5 separate regions of the Homo sapiens genome follow, and regions 2, 3, 4 and 5 are each linked to region 1. A link means that fine-mapping ties the variant in region 1 to the expression of a gene that starts in the linked region. Tissue or cell type: whole blood. Region 1 holds a variant in brackets; each other region holds the start of a gene. Each region is shown on its reference strand, or each on the opposite one.

Region 1 (4,000 bases):
AAGATAACATCTACCTTCTTGTCAACAAAGACCTCAAGACCCATAGGATTAGCTACAACCAACCAACATTCACCATGTTTCCCAGATGGGAAAAACAATAGGGCTAGTGCTTTGCAAGTCCACTGAAGGTGAAAAAGAAGGCAGGAAAACGCCTTCAGTGCCTGCAAACCGTGAGTCTGTACAGTCTTCCCTTCAGCTCCAAATGCCCCTGGCAGACACTTACTCTATCTGGCAATGGGGTTGAGTGGACCTTCCGAAGCGCCTCACTTACCCTCATGGTGTTTCAGGGATGAGTGTCAGGTCGAGGGACAGTTTTGGTTGCTTCAAATGGGACATGTCAGTGATGGCCAAAGTCACTATGCTTTACTTCAAATCCCAGCTGTTGGAGCTACCTTCCAGAGCAGATGATTTGGAGAACTTGACAGAAGATTAGGAAAAACCAATGTCTGGCCCTTTCTCTCTTCATGTAGTACAACTAGGCACCAGTCCTATTTTTGTTTTTGTTTTATTAACACAATTTTAATTGTTCACAGTGAACTAATTAAGATAGAAAAAGCTCCAATTAATACACCTATGGCTTAGAAAGGGAGAAATGGGTACTTCTAAAGAGTACAAGAAAGGAAACAGCAGGTTCAAAATGATGGTTCTTTTATGGGATTAGCTTTTTTTTTCTTTTTTGAGATGGAGTCTTGCTCTGTCACCAGGCTGGAGTGCAGTGGCATGATCTTGGCTCACTGCAACCTCCTCCTCCCGGGTTCAAGTGATTCTCCTGCCTCAGCCTCCCGGGTAGCTGGGACTACAGGCGCGCACCACCATGCCCAGCTAATATTTGTACTTTTGGTAGAGATGGGGTTTCACCATGTTGGTCAGGATGGTCTCGATCTCTTGACCTTGTGATCAGCCCACCTCGGCCTCCCAAAGTGCTGGGATTACAGGCGTGAGCCACTGTGCCTGGCCAGGATTAGCTTTTAAATGATTGTTTTGGTGCCATGTGCAATCTTCCTGGATCCTGAGGTTGGAGCATTTCCTCAGCTGCCCTGCTAGGCCTGTTTCATGTCAGCCAACTTCCGGGTCCAGGATCTCCATATAACAATTTAGGGGAAAACATTCAACAGGTTGAAGAACAGGCTTAGGGATATTTTCCCAGTGTTGTAACCTTCTTGCTTACTCTTTTTTGGAAGAAATACTACTTTTTTGTAAAAATGATATTTGCTGATTCTAAAGACACTGAGTAGACAGAAGCACTATGATGGCACCTCTAGAAATTACCCCCAAGTTTTATAATTTAAGGAGAATCATATGCAAAGAAGAAAATGCAAAAATGATAATGAGAACGGGGTAAGAAAGCTTGGTTCATGCTTTAAAAGGAGAAGGGAAAGGGACATTCAGGCAATCAAGAAAGGCTGAAGAAAACTAAGAGGGCTGGAGGAACAATGATTAGATAGGAAGGCTCTTGTCAGGGATCGTGGCAGGGGTGAAGAGTGTGAGGTCCTCAATATAAGTGAAAAATGAAATTTAATTTTGTCATTCCAAATTTTATTCTAATAAGGGAGATTTGTGCTGGATCACTGGGCCAAAATGATAAGGAAGGGAAATGCTACAAAATAACTGGGCTGCCCATAAGAGTGTGGGTCACACGGCGGGCAGGAGGGGCTTGGGGTGTGTGCATGGAGAGCCACCTTTCCATATCTAGGCCCTGTCAGGACATGCTGGGGCAGCGCCGGGCAGAGCCACATGGTGATGACTGGCTGTGTTCCCTGCCACATGGAGAGGAGAGGCACAGCAGGCAGTGCGGAAGGGACGACATGGGGCTGCGGAGCTCGGCAGTCGTCAGAGTGTCTGCAGCGTGGGCCACAAGGCAAGAGCCTTTGATCAACTGTTTAGCATGTGCTCTAGCTGATGTAACTGCACACGTGTTTTAGATGTGGTTTTCCCAGTAGCACACTCTTACAGAAGCAACAGGTTAAACTGTTGCTGCCGGTGTAAAAGGGAGTTCGGCAAAGTGAAGGACTAAAGACTGAAGGAAATGTTTTGACTGTTAAGCTGGACTTGGCTTCCTGAAATGGGGTTATTGTATGTGCATTTCACACGTTCTTGAGGTGTAGGACATATCACTTCTGACTTCAAATGAGAACAAACATGCAAAGAAAGGGCTGAGGAGTTTAAATCCATTTCTGTGGCCTTTGTCCACCTAAGCGATCAACTGAAGAGAACTCTGGAGGCTGTGCTCAGCTCCTCCTCAGGCTCTGCAGACAGACACGGCCATTC[C/T]CTCTCATCCCCAGGGCTGGCAGGGTGTCAGCCTCAAAGATTCCAGAAGCCCAGGCCCTGCTTCAGGGAGGCCAGAGATAAGTAATCTCCCCCAGGACACACAGAGGGTGGATCCTCTGCTGTCCCTCCCTTCCAGAAGCCCAACGGGTCCCTGTCAGAATTCCAAGCAGAAGGTGACTCAGCACAGAGGAGGAGGGATGGGAAGAACAACTCAGTTGCCCTCTTAATCCCGCCGCTCTCGGCCATGGGTACAGTCCTGCACACTTTGTGTCTTTAAGTGGTTGCTAATCTTTAAGGAAGGGGTATTTGTGTAATACTCTGCTGAGAAATCCTGGGGAGTCAGCCAGCCTCTGGTGACCTGACCCCACTACAGGTGGAGGTCAAGTCTTCAGTCCTGCCTTGGCAGTTTCTTCTGCCTTCCTCCCAGAAAGTGGATTTCTCAGGCATGAGCTCAAGCTGAGAGTCTGGTGATGGTAAAGATCAGAGTGCAGGCAATCTGGCATAACTGTAGCTGAACTGGCTGTCTGCAGAGGAAAGCAAGGGGCTGAGGAGCGTGGAATTGGGTGGGTGCATCTGGTCTGGTGCACTGGTGCACACACATGTGTACATGAGTGACCACGTGTGCACGTGTGTACATGTGTATGTACATGTGCAAATGACACACAGAGATCGCCCTTTCTACACATATATTTAAAAAGGCAGCTCAGTAAAATCGACTCACAGGTAGAGAGTCCATTATTTACTGTGACTTTTCCATGCAGAAGGACAGTGGTGCGGCCAAATAGGCAGCAGTCTCCACTGTTCGGAATGTCAGATCAGCTCCTCCTCACTCTGCGCACATTCCCCCGCCTGCCAGCTCTGTGGGCAGAAGGCTGCAGGAGTCAGATCTGGTCTCTACAAGACTCAGAAGTCAGGATGAAATTCATGTTTCCTCCATTTCTTAACAAAGAAGCACACCTGTAGAGATTTCTGAGCAAGGAATTGTGACTTGTTGCAGAATTTATTTTATTTTATTTTATTTTTTGAGACAGGATCTTGCTCTGTGGCCCAGGCTGTAGTGCAGTGGCTCGATCACAGCTCACTGCAGTCTTGACCTCTTGGGCTCAAGCAATCCTCCTGTCTCAGCCTCCCGAGTGCCTGGAACTATTGGAATATGCCACCATGCCCAGCTAATTTTTGTATTTTTTTGTAGAGACAGGGTTTTACCATATTGCCTAGGTTGGTCTGAAACTCCTGAGCACACATGATCCTTCCACCTCAGTCTCTCAAAGTGCTGGGATTACACGTGTGAGCTACCGCACTTGGCCATAATTCTGTATCTTGATAAGAAACTCACAAGTGGCTGTGAGAAGACATAAGGAAGGAGATGTGGCTACTTTAAGCCGTTTAACGTTTCATGTAAACTTATGTCTAACCAGGGAAAAAAAACTCCAAGGACTTTGTAATATATAGTTCTCTTAAGAAACTCTTTAAGGCTTTTTTTTTCTTTTTCTTCTTTCCCTTCTCTCTTCCTCCACCTCTCCATGGTCGTCTCACTATTTCCTAAAAAGCCCCGTGCTGTATAAATGCTAGGCATATGTTATTTTATTTAGCCCTTACAATAAAGCCTTGGCTTGTGAGTGATCAGCATTGGCTGCAGCACCCTGCCTCCAACCACCTGAAGGTGTTTACAGACGGCCTCTGCCTCTGAGTAGCTCTGGAGTCCGAGCCATGCACAGGACATCACCAAGCC
Region 2 (4,102 bases), not on the chromosome of region 1:
CTTAAATATGATGTCCTGTGTCATATGAACTGTTCCCTACTCCGAGCACCCAAGAACACTCTGCATTTCCACCTCCTCCGCCCATTCTGAAATTACTGCTATCGTCTGCCCGTCTATTTTCTCTCCATGTTATTCTTACTAGAGACTGGCACATAGCAGGCTTGCAGTAAATGTTGGTTGAAATGAAATGAAAATATAGCATAATGAGGTATTTTTAAGTCTAATACCTGTAAAATGCTTTCTGCTGTGTAGGTGACAAACTCAGCATGCCAGTATTGTTAGGAGTTTCTCCACAGTTCCACGGCATTCACTTCCAGATTCTCAAAATCCTCCTTTCTAACTTATTTGAAAAATTAGAAGTGTTTTCTGTCACTGCAAAGCCATCTGGGTATCACTTCATAACACAGATTCTAATGCTCCTCATACACATGTCAAAGTGGAAATAACAAAAACTTTTAATTTTTTCTTTCTAAATGAAATATTTTTTTAAAAAAAAGTTTAATTTTTTTCTTTTTCCTTTGGGTTTTCTATTTCATAAATTCCAAAGAACATATATCAAATATGCCAAATCTCTATAAAACAGAAGGTGTATTTCATGGCCAGAATACTTATGCGCCTCTACCTAAGTAAGGGCGGGGGTTCGGCAGGACATAATACAGTGTCCAGTTGCCCTCGAGAATAAAGTTTGGTTTTCCGGGGGTGGGTGGGGGGGTGGGGGGGTGGAGGTTAGGTTAGTTATATTCCTAGCATAATATGCAACCTAAAGGTTAGTTTATAAAAAAAGAAGCTGTTACTTTTATTGTGTTGTACGTAATATATAAAGAACGCCTAAAATTGGCCCAGTGGAAAAACAGATGAATTATGCCAGGACTTAAATCAATGATCGTCCTCTGTCTACAGGTCACATTTAAACTTGCCTTGTCCACTCCAGGGCAATCCCTGGCCTTGGGGTCTGCCCTGGGACTTCTCCAGCCCCCGCCCCAAAACTGGGCCTGTCCTGGGAGGCAGCCTGGCACCACTAACTCTTCTCTCCCTGGGTCAAAAGAGCAAGGTGGGTTCTTCTGTTCACACAGCCTGCACCTTGCTAACCAGATCCAAAGGCTTCTGAGGTCCTCACATTGCCTTACTTTTCTATGCTTTCATTTTCCATTTCATCCTTACAAACAGTTCCTTGGTGTACATTTCCATACAACAGTTTTCCTGCTGGTGGAGGCCAGGTCGGAACCTGGGTTTCATTTTCTTTGAGCGATGTTTACTTCCTGTAGCTTATGCATTTCGATGGCAAAAACAATTCCTTTGGGGTTCTCGGCCTCATCAAATATTCTCTCTATATAGAGTGTACACACTCTCCTAGACACAGCAGTCTATGTGGATTCCCACCGACCCTGGGCACCTCATTCAGCTCGGGTAGTGGTCCCATGTCTCCCACAGGCGTGTCTGTAACCACCTCCTTATGGCGAGGAACTGGCTGCGGAATCCTTCCCAGCCTGCGGGAGGACGTCACCTCCAAGTCTCTGGGTGACTTGTAGAGGGGTTACCTGCGGCCAAGAGGCCGGCCCTGGACCCTTCTTGGGCCCACCCTGTGTTCACTACCCACCCTCTCCCACCAGGTCAGGACCCGCCGAGGCTTGGGGATCCTCCCAGGGCAGCCGTCTCGCGGGAGGGCCGCCCCACCCCTCGCCACCCTCACCCCGACAGGCTCCGGGCCGCGGGGCAGGGCGGCGGGTACCGTTTTCAGGCCGCGGAAGCGCCCGCCGGGAAGGAGCCGCCGCCCCCTCGCCCACCGCTGCAGCCCCCTGCCCTGGCTCACCTGCCGCCCGGCTTGGCTTCGCTCAGGGTCACTGTTTCCTCGGCATCGTGCCGCCTGGAGAGAACTCCCGACCGGGATGGGACGCTGACCAGGGAACCTGCCGGCGGGCGGCGGCGGTGGCGGAGGGGGCAGCCGGGACTGGGGTGCCTAGGGCTGATGCGCGGCCTGGCGACCCCGCCCAGCGCGGCTCAGCTGACAGCCAGCCGCTCCCTGCCCGCGCCGGGGAATTTCCCGGGCCCCGCCCATCCCATACCCCGCCCATCCCCCCCACCCTGCCCATTCCATACCCCACCCGACCAAGGCCCCGCCCCTCCTCTTTCCTGCGTCCGCCCCCAGCTACCCACCCTCGCTGTCCGTGCGGGGTCGAGGCTGGGACCCGGGTGAACAGGGACTGCTCTAAGGCGTCACTGTGACGGCGTTAATCAAAATAAATCATTAATCAAATGCAGTGTGCGGAGTTCGTCTTCCCCGTGTCTTCCCGCAGATCCCGTAGTGGAGGCTGGAGCCGCAGGGGGTCGCTGCCGCCCACAGAAAGAGGAGAATGCCAGGCATCCTCGGAGGGAGGCCTCCATCTGTGTTTTTTGAAAAAAGGTTAACATCTAGACATAGTTAACTGAGCATACATAGCTTTCCACTCGTTTTTGCTTTAAAATACACTCAAAAAGCAGAAAGCCTGCAGGATGCTTCTTGGGCTCTTGTTGCGGACGAATAGGCTCGGCTATTCTTGTTGCTGAAGAATAGCCTCTGCTGGTGTGGAGGAGGGAAGCTGCCCCCGGATTAGACAGCAGGATGACAAGGTAGGAGCGAGAGCCGCCCTATGTGCATCCAGAGTACCCGGGTAGCGCTGCAGGGATGGGAGGGAGGGAAGGAGGGAGGGGGAGAGAGAGAGAGAGGGAGGGACGGAGAGAGGGAGAGAGGGAGGGAGAGAGGGAGGGAGGGAGAGAGGGAGAGAAAAAAAACAAAACAACAACAACAAAACCTAATCTGAAACAGGAAAAAGGCAGATGCGCCCTCTCCTGGTATCTCCGAAGGATTCTGCTTCGCTGTCTGGACCTCCTGCTGCCTGGCCAAGCCTGACTCTCAACCCTGCCCCTGAGGCTAACCCCAAGAGCAGGGCAGAGAAGCAAGCAAGTCAGCGACTGCCCCAGACCCAATTCCGGGCCCTCGAGTTGGTGTGGTGTAGGAGGGGCAGATGAGGCTAGAGGCTGCTTTATAAGGAGTGAGCCTGGGGGTGGGAGTGGGGAGAAATAGAGAATTTAAAAAAATTCTTTTTATATCAGTGCAGGAGGGCCAGGCGCGGTGGCTCACGCCTGTAATCCCAGCACTTTGGGAGGCCAAGGCAGGCAGATCGCAAGGTCCGGAGTTCGAGACCAGCCTGGCCAATATGGTGAAAGCCTGTCTCTACTAAAAATACAAAAATTAGCCGGGCATGATGGTACTCTCCTGTAGTCCCAGCTACTCGGGAGGCTAAGGCAGAAGAATCGCTTGAACCCGGGAGGCAGAGCTTGCAGCGAGCCGAGATCATGCCACTGCACTCCAGCCTGGGTGACAGAGTGAGACTCCGTCTCAAAAAAAAAAAAAAAAAAAAAAAATCAGTGCAGGAAATAACTGATCATTCATGAAAAGGGCTTGGAAAAATATATACAGAGAGAAATGGAATGACGATCTCTAATTTTTGTTTATCTACTGGGATAATCCAGGCAGAAAAGACGGTGTCACAGCTGTACCCTGGGATCGGCAGAAAAGGGTCCCCCCGGGGCCTGTAAGGGGTGCCTGCGGTAAGTCGTACTTCACTAGGCTCCTTTTACTGTTTAAAACCCTATAGGTGGGGCACGGTGGCTCACACCTGTAATCCCAGCACTTTGGGAGGTCAAGGCAGGAGGATCGCTTGAGCCCAGGAGGGAGAGGCTGCAATGAGCTGTGATTGCAGCACTGCACTCCAGCTTGGGTGAGAGGGAGACTTTGTCTCAAGCAAAAACAAAAACGAGAACAAAACAACACTATGAAAGTGAATTAAAATGAGCATCAGTGAAACTCAGAGCCAAGAGAAGAAGGTCACCCACAAGCTGCCCATGGCTTTGGTGTGGGAGGCTCGAGGTGAGTTTCTGGTACAGAAAGCAGTCAAAGTTGTTTTCTCCTGATTCCTTGCTCTCAGTGGTGGGGTCGGGGTGGGGGGTGCCCTGAAGCACTGCACACACACATGCACACACACTCCCCCGACAACCACTTCTTAGCTGTAGGACCTTGACCAAGTTACTTCATCTTACCCTTCCTCATTCCCTTTATCTGTAA
Region 3 (4,160 bases), not on the chromosome of region 1:
TACTAAAAATACAAAAATTAGCCGGGTATGGTGGCATGCGCCTGTAGTCCCAGCTACTCGGGAGGCTGAGGCAGGAGAATTGCTTGAATGTGGGAAGCGGAGGTTGCAATTAGCTGAGATTGCACCACTGCACTGCAACCTGGGCGACAGAGCCAGACTCCGTCTCCAAAAATAAAATAAAATAAAATAAAATAAAATATTAAAAGACTAGTTCTGGAAGGATAAATAAGAAAACAAAAGCCATGACCACCTCAAGAGAAGGACACCAATAACTCTGAAGGCCACAGCCAGGTCAGCGACCCCATCATCTTACCCACTCCCCAGCTAAGCAGAGCTGACTCTGCTTGCTTGTAGCTGCGGGAGCCTGGCAGAGGGCAGTAGCGCTCCCAGCCGCTGCCCACGTGCCTGTCAACTTGCCAGAGAGGAGTGCTCCAGCCAAGCAGCTGATTGGCTACAGGTTTTCTCAGATTGCCCAATCACAAGAGTTCTGATGAGGTGGATGTCCTGCGGCTGCGCAGAGTCCTTGAGGCATCCTAAGGGTAGGTTCTTGCATCCTAGTCTCCATGCCAGCTCACTGCGCCACAGAGGCTGAGGGACTGCAGAAATGGGCTTATGAGGGCAGATAGCCTTCCTTCCCGGGGGACACTGTTATTGCCAATAGCCCATTTTATGTGCTTATCCACCTTAGTTATTAACAGCCTAAATCTGGTGCTTTCTGGGGGAGACCAGGAGCCCCCATTACTCAATCTCACCTCGTTTTATCCCATTTCCTCCAAAGACTCCACTCCGACCACACAGAGTCTTTGCTGTTGTTCCCAGTGCCAAAAGCGTTCCCCAGATATCCAGATGGCTCACTCACTTCCTCCGGCCTTTACTCAAAGGACACCTCACTGAGGCCTTCCTATTTATTTATTTACTGAGACGGAGTCTCACTCTGTCGCCCAGGCTGGAGTGCAGTGGTGCTATATCGGCTCGCTGCAACCTCCACCTCCTGGGTTCAAGCAATTCTCGTGCCTCAGCCTCCCGAGTAGCTGGGATCACAGGAGCACGCCACCACGCCCCACTAATTTTTATTTATTTATTTATTTTTTGAGACAGAGTCTCGCTCTGTTGCTGAGGCTGGAGTGCAGTGGTGTTATCCTGGCTCACTGCAACCTCCGTCTCCCGGGTTCAAGCGATTCTCCTGCCTCAACCTCCCGAGAAGCTGGGATTACAGGCACCCACCACCATGCCCTGCTAACTTTGTATTTTTAGTAGAGACGGGGTTTCATCATGTTGGCCAGGCTGGTCTCGAACTCCTGACCTCAGGTGATCCGCAGGCCTCGGCCTCCCAAAGTGTTGGGATTACAGGCGTGAGCCACCGCGCCCTGCCCTATTTATTTATTATTACTATTTTTAGAAACAGGGTCTCACTCTGTTGCCCAGGCTGGAGTGCAGGGGTGCAATCATGGCTCGCTGTAGCCTCGACCTCCAGGGCTCAAGCGATCCTCCCGTTTCAGCCTCCCGAATAGCTGGGACTATGAGCATGCGCCATCATGCCCAGTTAATTTTTAAATTTTTTGTAGATAAGGGGGTCTCGCTATGTTGCCCAGGCTGGTCTCGAACTTCTGGCCTCCCAAAGTGCTGGGATTACAGGCATGAGCCACCGTACCGGCCCCCTTTCACTTTTTGTTTTTTTTTAATTCATTTTCTCATTTCAGCCGCTGGGGCCTGCGACTGGATTCATAGACTATGACTCCCAAGTCCAGCCTCCCGGGCCATTTCAAGGTTCCCAGGTCTGGAGTGCGTCTTGCCTCATTAGAGGCTGGGCCTGGCTCGTTATGAGGCGGGTCCCAGATCCTTCCGCCTTCCTATTGGCCCACCTCGCGTTGTGGGCGGGACCTATTACACCAGCTTTCTTGATTTGCTACCTCCCTGGAGCTCCCTGACCCGGACGCTCTCTGGGCCAATATGGCAGCGCCCAGCAACAAGACAGAGCTGGCCTGGAGTCCGCGGCTGGCCGCGTGAGTAGGTAGGTCGCGCGCGGGTAGGCGAACGCGAACTGCTGGGCTGCAGGCGGGCCCTTCAGGACCCGGCAGCGCGAGAGGGCAGCCCTGGAGGGACCCAGCTGCAGGGCCAGGGCGCCATGACCTTTCGTAGTGGGGGCGGGGACGCGCTGGGAAAGGCCGCCTGTCTTGTGCCAGCCGCCTCACGCCCCCAGTCTCCCATTTTGCAGATGACCTCGCGAGAGGTCACGCCGCAAGTCGGCAACCGGGCAGGATTTGGAATCCGCGTCTGCCTTTTTCCCCCAAGAGACCCAGAATCCTGGCAGCCGGTTTCAAAGCTGTTGTACGTACACCATACCTCGGGGTTCAGATTTATAGGTGTTTTTTTGAAATTGAGGCTTGTTTCCGTTCAGTTGTTACTCGTTAGGCATCTGTCATATACCAGGCACTGTCCTTGGTGCTGGAGACACAGCAATGAGGAAGATAGATAAAAATCTCTCATCTCCTGGGGGAACCAGACTTTGAACAAATTAGAAATAAACGAAACAGGTGATTTCAGATACTGATAAGTTACTAAAAATGCGTTAATGGTGTCGGGAATTTCGCTTGAGCCCAGGAGTTTCGAGACCAGCCTTGGCAACATAGCAAGACCCTGTTCTCTACAAAAAATTATCTGGGCGTAGTGGTGCACGCCTGTAGTCCTAGCTACTCGGGAAGCTGAGGTGGGAGGATTGCTTGAGCCCAGGAGGTTGAGGCTGTAGTGAGCCGTGATTGTGCCACTGCACCCCAGCCTGGGCAACAGAGCAGGACCCTGTCTCCGAAACAAAAATTAATAGGGTGATGAGGGCTTTTAGAATGTGGGGAATGGGAGATGGTCAAAGAAGACCTTTCATTGAAATGACCAGAGACAGCTGTGGGCAGATCTGGAGGAAGAAAGCTCTAGACAGAGAGAAAAGCAAGTACAAAGGTTCTGAGATGGGATAAACTTAGTTTCTTTCAGAAACAGTGTAGCTGAAGCTGCCAGTGGTAGGAGTTGAGTTTAGAGGGGTAGACCCTATCTGATTTTATTTATTTATTTTTATTTTTTAGAGACAGGATCTCACTTGTTCGTCAAGCCTGGAGTGCAGTGGTGCAGTGCACTCCATAGCTCACTGCAGCCTCAAACTCCATGGCTCAAGTGATTCTCCTGCCTCAGCTTTCCCAGTAGCTGGAACTACAGGTGCACACCACCAGGTCCAGCTAATTTTTTAAAATAATTTTTGTAAAGATCGTGTCCTGCTATGTTGTCCAGGCTGGTCTTGAACTCCTGGGCTCAAGCGATCCTCCCCACTTGGACTTCCAAAGCACTAGGATTATAGGCATGAGCCACTGCTCCCTGGCTATTTATTTATTTTTAGAGACAGGATCTCAGTATGTTGCCCAGGCTAGAGTGCAGTGGCTATTCACAAGTGCAGTCATGGTTCACTGCAACCTCTAACTACTGACCTTAAAGGATCCTCCAGCCTCAGTCTCCTGAGTACCTGAGATGACAGGCATTCACCACCATGCCTGGATAATTCTTAATTTTTTTGTAGAGATGGGGTCTCTCTATGTTGCCCAGGCTGGTCTTGAATCCCTGGGCTCAAGTGATCCTCCTACCTTGGTCTCCCAAAGTGTTGGGATTACAGGCATGAGCCAGTGTGCCCAGTCTCTGATTTTAAGTGTGATATGCCGTTAGCGATTTTAGGCAGAAATCACTAATTTTAGTTGATTTATTTATTTATTTAGCGATGGAATCTCGCTCTGTCGCCCAGACTGGGGTGCAGTGGCACAATCTTGGCTCATTGCAACCTCCACCTCCCAGGTTCAAGTGATTCTCCTGCCTCAGGCTCCCGAATAGCTGGGATTACAGGTGCCTGCCACCACACCTGGCTAATTTTTGTATTTTTAGTACAGACGGGCTTTCACCATCTCGGCCAGGCTGGTCTTGAACTGACCTTGTGATCCACCTGCTTCAGCCTCCCAAAGTGCTGGGATTACAGGCGTGAGCCACAGCGCCTGGCCTAATTTTAGTTTAAAAGCTCCCTCTGGCTGGGTGTGGTGGCTCACACCTGTAATCCTAGCACTTTGGGAGGCCAAGATGGGTGGATTGCTTGAACTCAGGAGTTCGAGACCACCCTGAGCAACATGATGAAA
Region 4 (4,147 bases), not on the chromosome of region 1:
GGTCTTTGTCAATACCAACATAAAAATGAACACATAGGCCGGGTGCAGTGGCTCATGCCTATAATCCCAGCACTTTGGGAGGCTAAGGTAGGTGGATCATGAGGTCAGGAGTTCAAGACCAGCCTGGCCAAGATGGTGAAATCCCGTCTCCACTAAAATACAAAAATTAGCCGGGTTTGGTGGCGGGAGCCTGTAATCCCAACTACTCGGTAGGCTGAGGCAGGAGAATCGCTTGAATCCGGGAGGCGGAGGTTGCAGTGAGCTCAGATCGCACCACTGCACTCTAGCTTGGGTGACAAAGCAAGACTCCGACTCAAAAAAAAAAAAATTCTCCTTGAAGACTGGGTATTTGGGAAAAAAAAAAAGGAAAGGAAAGGAAAAAAAAGAAGGAAGGGAAGGGAAGGGACGAAGGGAGGGAGGGAGGAAGAAGGGAAGGAAGGAAGGAAGGAAGGAAGGAAGGAAGGAAGGAAGGAAGGAAGGAAGGAAAAAGAGAAATAAAATTAAGAGGCCTGATGCTGTGGCTGACGCCTGTAATCCCAGCGCTTTGGGAAGCCAAGGTGGGCAGATAGTTTGAGCCCAGGAGTTGGAGACCAACCTGGACAACATGGTAAAACTCTGTGTCTTCAAAAAATACAATTAGCTGGATGTGCTGTTGTCCCAGCTACTCAGCTACTCACGGGTCTGAGGTGGGAGGATCCCTTGAGCCTAGGAGGTTGAGGCTGCAGTGAGCTGTGATCTTGCCACTGCACTCCAGCCTGGGTGACAGAGTGAGACCCTGTCACAAATTTTTAAATTAAAAAAAAAAAAGTAAACAAAAAGGCCGGGCGTGGTGGCTCACACCTGTAATCCCAGCACTTTGGGAGGCCGAGGCGGGTGGATCACCTGAGGTCGGGAGTTCCAGACCAGCCTGACCAACACAGAGAAACCCTGTCTCTACTAAACATACAAAATTAGCCGGGTGTGGTGGCGCATGCCTGTAATCCCAGCTACTGAGGAAGGCTGAGGCAGAGGTCGCGGTGAGCCGAGATAGCGCCATTGCACTCCAGCCTGGGCAACAGGAGGGAGACTCCCTCTCAAAAAAAAAAAAAAAAAGTAAAGAAAAAAGAAATTAAGAAAAGAATGAACACGTGTTTATTTTACCTAACTCATGAAGAAACTAGCAGATGTTATAATTAATACAAGAGAAAATCTAGAGAACGGACATATTTATGGATCAGGAAAACAGAAATGAATATGAAAATGGACGCCAAAACTGCTTTTTTTCCCCACAGTGTGGGGAACAGCAGGTTAATTGAACCTCTACCAGACAGGATAGAATTTGCATACAGATCAGTTACCTACATGAATTGTAAAATAACTCCCATGAAAACAGAATCTTTAAAGCAGAAGGATATGCTATAGACAAGTCCTTCAGGTTTCCCATTAGCCATCACTTCTGGGAAGCCTTTCTAGAATCTCCACGTATGAATGAGTTGCCACTTCTAGGCCAGCATATTTATCACGTTATATTGTTTACATCCCTCCCTCCATACAAGATACACAAGACCATGGGCTTTTTGGGGCAGATTCTGTGAGTTATTCAAGTCTCTGATTGCTTCTTCAGCGTGAATATCTGCTTCTAAGGAACACAATATGCTAGGCGGTAGTGTTTGTCGTAAGGTAAACATATTGCATGTTAACGGAGCATCCATTTTACTCTAATATCTGGGGAAACATCATTTGACTTTAAAGAAGACGCTGTCTTTCCCTCCACCTTCAATGTTTCATTGTTTTATTAACTAATCGCTTTTTATTTCCAGGCCTGCGGGATACAACGGGAATACAAAAATGCGCTAGAGCGGTCCGCAACGCTGTAGCCTGCGTAAGGAACAATTGATACTAAGTGGCACTAGGCTGCAGGGGGTGCCACTGACACACTGGGAGAGGGCTCAGCCAACCACAAGGTGATAACGAGGTCAGCGGAGCACCAGAAACCGGCTCACTAGCCTCCTGATCAGTCTCGGCCCAGAGGAAAATGAAGGGCTTGAGCTTCTGCTTTTACAAATCTGAGGGGCAGGAAATGAAATCCCACTAGCAGTCTGCGTAGTGGAGTTGAACCCTAGCACCCGCTCCCCAGGGGGTCGCCTACAACGCGTTCCAGGTGGGCAGGCTCAGGCGCTGCTCCCTCACAAGCCCCCGGCCACGCGGTGTCTGGGACCGGGTGCCTAGTCAGCCCGGGTGGCTCCGCCCCGAGGCCCCGCCCCATGACGCGAGACCCCGCCCCCGCAGCGCCCGCTTCCAAGATGGCGGCAGCGATGCCTGCCCGGCTGTTGGGGTGGCGGTGACGACAGGCAGCAAAAGACCAGGTATGTGCGCTGGGAATGCGTCGACACGGAGGCCTGGGATAAAGGTTTGGGCATTCGAGAGAGTGAGAAGTTTTGGGTAACGCCTGGAGACGAGCCTGAGCAGGGACGGGGTCCTAGGTGGAAGTATGGACGGGGGCCGGGCGGGCTCACGTTGCTAGTAGGTAGGGCAAAAGCAAGAGACTGGGATAGGATGGGCGTGCTCCGAAAGAGCTGGGTTTTAACCCCCTCCACAGCGCGGACCACGCCCCTCTAGGTGAGCCCTTCCAGCCACCCCTGACTGTCTCTGCCCCTGCTCTCCCTCTCCCTTTCTCTTCAGCAGTAACCCTCCTCCCCACCCCCGCTAGAAGAGGGGAAAGGTAGAAAAGGTAGAGGACGCCACCCCCACCCTACTCTCCGCCGAGCTCCGGGGCTGTTCGCTTACAGCCCCCAGGTGGTCACGGTCCCTGCACCTGAGGAGTTGGCACCCAGGCACATGAAGAATAGAAGGAGCCTGTTTCCTACTTCGCCCTGGGTACTCCTTAGGCCACTCCACGGTCCTGTCATGACTCTGTCGCCACTTCAACTGGTTCTTGGTCTGGGGGAAAACAATGTTTCCATTAGCTGTCCTGTCCCCACTCCCCAATCTGTCCTGTTGGGGTGGGGGTACGGGGGTGGTTAAGTATGAACCTGACACTTATCATTCCAGGGTAGCACGGGAGATAGGCGAGGGACCTACCATCTCCTGCTCCTCCTCTTCCTTTCCAACCACTTTCCTTCACTTCGCCTGCTGGGAAACCAGCTTCACCCTGATCCTGATCTCTGGCGGTGCAGGTAGCTAGTTATCCTTTACCACTTCTGTTCCAGCTGGTCCCAGATTCGCTGCTGGAGTGCTGGATGGAGCCTTTCTCTGCCCTCTGTGACATTTCCAATTTTAGATAATGCCTCACATCTCTGTCCCCCCGGGACCCCCTGGAGCCCCCATGATCCCTAAGAAGACAGCTTGAACCTAGGTGAGTCTATCTCTTCCCTTCTAAAATTGGAAGAGGGGGTTCTCTAGAGACTTTCTGAAATGAACATGAGATTTGAATGATGTAAACATTTTTGGGGGTGAGGACTGACAGTAGATGGTGGGAGTGGTTTGGGGGGAGGTAGAGGAGAGCGAAACTTGGGCTGAAGTGACAGGTGGTAGGGTTACTGGTGGTTACATTCTGTTTCCTTGCGTGACTGTGCACCTGTGTGCTCCCTTCTGTGACTTTGTTTTCTGCTTTTTCCTCTTTACCCCTGGCATCACCTTCAACCCTACCTACTGACCTCTCTGCTGGCTTGCTCTCTTCCTGCCTACCCCCAGAATTCCCCTCTCCCTCCCTAGATCTCACCCCCAGGATGTTGCGGAGGCTGCTGGAGCGGCCTTGCACGCTGGCCCTGCTTGTGGGCTCCCAGCTGGCTGTCATGATGTACCTGTCACTGGGGGGCTTCCGAAGTCTCAGTGCCCTATTTGGCCGAGATCAGGGACCGACATTTGACTATTCTCACCCTCGTGATGTCTACAGTAACCTCAGTCACCTGCCTGGGGCCCCAGGGGGTCCTCCAGCTCCTCAAGGTCTGCCCTACTGTCCAGAACGATCTCCTCTCTTAGGTAAGTGCAGGAGGAAGGAGGTGGTGAAAGGAAGGACAAGGTGCGGAGACAGGGAGGCTTGGGGATAGGGAGGCATGGAGTGGCAGAAGTGGAACTTAGAAGAGGATAGGTAGGCTGAGGCTGCAGGTAGGCTGAGGTTGAGATAGAGGGCTGAGGTTGAGATAGAGTAGACTCTGAATTGGGAGTT
Region 5 (4,144 bases), not on the chromosome of region 1:
AGTGCCGTCATTCCTAGTCCTAATTCTGCTGCTGCTTGTGCTGTGCCCATCCTGTCTCATCTCCGAGAACTGACCTCCATTCATGAGGACCCAGATATGGCAGCCATGAGCTGGGGATAGGTTGGGGCAGTGGGGAGTTAACTGGGTTGGAAAGAAAACTAGTTGTGGCTAGGAATAGACTGCCAAAAGTAGGGGGTGGTCAGAAAGTTAAAGGAACCCCCTAGATGGGGTGAAGGATGCTCTGCATTCACTCTCTGAGGAAAAGGCACAGTTTGCCTTACTTTACAATGCTTTAAGAACCAGGAATAAACATGTAAGAGCAATTAATGTAAAAACTTAAAATCTCAATAGACGTGGTCCTAACTACACACACTGGGCTTAAGTTTGCTTCTGTTCTATCTTCGAATCTTTTTTATAATTTATTTATTTATTTGTAGAGACAAGGATCTTGCCATGTTGCCCAGGCTGGACTCAAATGCCTGGCCTCAAATTACCCTCCCGCCTCAGCCTCCCAAAGGGCTGGGATTATAAACATGAATCACCTCATCTGGCTTCTCTTCTGTCTTGGAGTAAAGAACCTTCTAATCAAAGGAACTGGGTAAGTATAACACAATAATAGGGAAAATGTCTCTCATAAAAGATACCTATTTTTTTTCTACTTCAAAGCAACTTCAACAACCCCCATGAAGATGCAGATATGGAAAAGAGGATTGCAACCAGGGGTGCAATTTCTCACGGGTGAGAAATTGAGAGAGGAGAGTGAATGAAAGAAGTGACAGGCCAAGGGAAGGACACCAGTTTGATGCCACTAGGCAGCTGTTGCCCAGACACCAGGGACAAGGCCTGGCAACCCACCCAAAGGCACAGTGCTTTATGGGAACAAATCAGAAATAAAGGCGAGGAGGGATCCTGAAGGGTGAAATAGTCAGCTTTTCCTGCCAGGCTCAGCTTGTAAATGGAGTGATGTATGACCTAGAAAACCTGCAGGTGTTTTCAGGGTCCTACAGTAGCCTCAGTTTCCCCAGAGTGAGCCATAACCAAGCTCAGAAAAGGGACAATTGCCTCCATCTCTTGGCTAAGCAGTTCCTGTCCCTTGCGGGGACTGGGTCTTTGGCATAATACTTGTAGGGTTATCCCGGCTGTGGGTATGAGAGGAATTCTCAGAGGGCAGGGAGGTCATACAATTAGAGCTCTGGGTTTTAATTTCCCTGCCTGCTTGTCACAGAACCTTGTCCTGTGCTCTTATTTTGACCTGATCCCTCACCACCCCCAGCCCTGTCCTAAGGCTGAGATCCCTGGGGGCTCAGCACTCCCAACCTGTTATTAATAGCTCTTCATACCAGTAGCCACTTGACCTTTTCCACTCTGGTGCCAAGGCTTAAAACTGCTCCTCTTCAGAGGTCTCTGGCCCCCTCCCTCTTCAGCCCACCCCTCTCCCACCAGTTCCATTCCTTCAGCAGCTGGGCCAGAGAGCTGGGAGGTCTAAAATGACTGAGTCAGCATGCAGGGCCCACACCAGCTCCAGGGAGAGGAATGTTTTGTGTGAGGAGAGCAGGGTGGGGCAAAGGAACCAGGCCCAGCTTCCTGACCCGGTTGGAGAGAGGGTCTCAGCCCAGGGTGGGCCAGTCCTCTGCATGCTACAGATAGGAACCCAGGCTAAGGCCACAGAAGGAAAGGCCCGTCTGGGTAAGGAAAGAGAGAGAGGAATCCGGGCTCCTCTTACCTTAACCACAACCTCCTTCCCACCCTGCCCTCACCTGCCGTAAGAGTGTTTGTGAGTGAAGCCTTTCCCAAACTGCCATGCACAGGGAGGATATTCCCTGACTGTTTATATCACTTACTCCAAGTTACACTGGCAGCTGCCATGATCTGTCTGTTCTCCATAAAGATATCCCACTACCTCCTAGGAAAAGGCTAGTCTGTTTTACTTTGCTATGGTGGTCCTCATAATGCCTTATAAAAGGGTGGATGGATGGTTGGTTGTACCTCCCCCCATTCCCAACTTAGCTGCACAAATCTAGGGTAGCAGGACAGGGCTCCCTCAAAGCAGCACCTCATTCTTGACGGAAAAGGTTTATGACTCAATCTCCCCCTCATCAGCCCCAACACCCACTCCACTGCCCCATGGGACTGCGATCTGGGGCATGGACACCCTAGTCCTCATCCCAGTCCAGCCCACATAAAGTAGATCGCTAAGCTCCAGAGCAAAAGGACTCTCAATGTCATCCCCACCTCTATCCCAATGGCTGAGCCTCACTTACCTTTACACTCTTGGGGTCAAAGGCAGGTTCCTTGGGAGCCTCAGGAGCTGGGGCAGGGGCTGGTGCAGGGGCTGGAGCTGGAGCTGGAGCTGGCTTGGCTGCCTCCTTCTTAGGCTCAGGCTTCTTGGGAGCCATGTTGTCTTGTTGGGATCTTTGGCAGAGGAGTGATCTAAGAAGAAACCGAGAGACGTGGCGTCTGGGAGATGAGATAGGAGCCTGGGCTGCCTCCCTTCCCTTTTATCCTGGGCAGGAGCCCCCACAGAGGGGCTGGGTGAAAGCAAGAGCAACTGCTGCTGACTATAAAAGGAAGAAACGCCAGCAGGGTACAGCTGACAACTGTGTATTGTCACCAGGTTTGGGGCCACCAGCCCCCTCCCCTTCATGCCACAGCTCTCTCTTCACCTCTAGGACAGGCTGATCCCTTCTTGCCAATTGGTGGAAACCCAGAAGGACCAGGGAAACAGACCTTCTCAAATATGCCGGAGCAGCCAGAGAGATGAGCTGACTTGAGCAGTTGATAAGCCTCACACAAAGCCCAGGGGAGGGTGAGGCTTTTTTTAGCCCCTCCCGAGCAGAGGCAGCCCACTGCACATTCCTTCTAAGCCAAGATCCTTTAAGCTGAGAGCCACTCTGGGCCCTCAGCTCTGCCTAGAGGCCCAACTCTCCAGGCATGGAGCTCTGAAGCAACAGCTGGTCCAGCCAACCCACACTGCCCCACACCCTCCCAACTCACAGGATGAAAGCCTCCATTTTCCAGAGCAGGCATCCCAGGAACTCCACAGACCTCAGATCCCTAGATCTACCCCCTTACACACAACCTCAGTCATTCATTCAACAAGTAGTGAGCACTGAACCCATGCCTAGGCACCTAGGAGAGAAGCAGAGAGATGTGGTAGAAAGTCGAGGAGACTGAGGGTCAGAAAACTTGGGGTTTAGTTTTCACTTTACCTCTAACTCATTCTGTGCTCTGTGTGTGTGTGTGTGTGTGTGTGTGTGTGTGTGTGTGTAGTGCTTACTACTATCAGTACCAGGAACTGTTAAGTGCTATTCATATAAAATCTCATTAAATCTTCACCATGATCCTATAAGGTAGATACTATTTTGTTTGTTTGTTTGTTTTAACAGAAACAAGGTATCGCTCTGTTGCTCAGGTTGCAGTGCAGTGGTGCAATCACAGCTCACTGCAGCCTCGTCTTTCCTGGCTCAAGCGATTCTCCCACCTCAGCCTTCCGAGTAGCTGGGACTACAGGTGCACACCAGCACACTTGGCTAATTTTGGGGGAGTTTTTTTGTTTTTTGTTTTTCAGTAGAGATGAGGTCTTGCTAAATTGCCCAGGTTGGTCTTGAACTCCTGAGCTCAAGGGATCCACTAGCCTCGGTCTTCCAAAGGGCTGGGATTATAGGCATAAGCCGCCACGCCAGGCCAGGTAGATACTATTATTATTTTCACTTTACACATGGGGAGATTGAGACTAAAACTGGATGAACAACTTGGCCAAGGTCACTCAAATAATTAGCTATAAGCTGGGATTAGATGTAGATATGTCTGAGTCTAAAGCCTATGCTTGAATAATGTATATGATAATCCAGTTGTCGGGGAGAGACATACAAGTTTCTGCATTTATTGGAGGAGTCAGGATGGATACACGCTGAACTGTTAACAGAGACACCTCTGGGGACCTAGGGGGTAAGGGTGGGAGGATAACAGCAATTTGCAGTTTTTTACTTTTTTCACTTCCTGTATTAATGGAAATTTTTATAACGAGCATTTACTGTTTATGTAAAAAAAACTTTGAAAGTCAACAAAATAATTCAGAAAAATAACAACAAAAAAGCTTATGTATCCACTACACAAAACTGCTTTGTGCTGAATCTTTAGACTC

What was found. PIP is the estimated chance that this variant, and not a neighbour inherited with it, causes the effect.
Region 2: OPTN starts here. The variant in region 1 is fine-mapped to the expression of OPTN in whole blood (TOPMed, PIP above 0.99).
Region 3: it holds the start of ECSIT, and the variant in region 1 is fine-mapped to the expression of ECSIT in whole blood (TOPMed, PIP above 0.99).
Region 4: B4GALT3 starts here. The variant in region 1 is the best candidate, but not a certain one, in a credible set for the expression of B4GALT3 in whole blood (TOPMed, PIP 0.84).
Region 5: MYL4 starts here. The variant in region 1 is fine-mapped to the expression of MYL4 in whole blood (TOPMed, PIP above 0.99).

Annotation. Positions count from the first base shown.
Region 1 is chr7:50,358,553-50,362,552 of GRCh38, reverse strand. All of the region lies in intron 3 of IKZF1 (IKAROS family zinc finger 1), which reads right to left. Among named protein-coding and RNA genes, the nearest start is that of IKZF1, 56 kb to the right of the region's middle. RefSeq lists enhancers at 1,265-1,782, 1,783-2,302. The variant C/T (reference allele first, on the strand shown) is at 2,269.
Region 2 is chr10:13,098,011-13,102,112 of GRCh38, reverse strand. It overlaps OPTN (optineurin), which reads right to left and starts at 1,950. Exons shown (of 15, transcript NM_001008212.2): 1 at 1,811-1,950. It also overlaps a transcript of CCDC3 not described here. RefSeq lists an enhancer at 1,165-1,294 and silencers at 1,575-2,144, 2,615-2,674.
Region 3 is chr19:11,526,913-11,531,072 of GRCh38, reverse strand. It overlaps ECSIT (ECSIT signaling integrator), which reads left to right and starts at 1,939. Exons shown (of 8, transcript NM_016581.5): 1 at 1,939-2,011.
Region 4 is chr1:161,175,621-161,179,767 of GRCh38, reverse strand. It overlaps B4GALT3 (beta-1,4-galactosyltransferase 3), which reads left to right and starts at 2,261. Exons shown (of 8, transcript NM_003779.4): 1 at 2,261-2,345; 2 at 3,189-3,334; 3 at 3,694-3,960. The coding sequence starts at 3,708. It also overlaps a transcript of PPOX not described here. RefSeq lists enhancers at 434-935, 2,074-2,573 and silencers at 2,172-2,341, 2,552-2,601, 3,441-3,490.
Region 5 is chr17:47,207,675-47,211,818 of GRCh38, reverse strand. It overlaps MYL4 (myosin light chain 4), which reads right to left and starts at 2,471. Exons shown (of 7, transcript NM_002476.2): 1 at 2,262-2,471. The coding sequence starts at 2,396.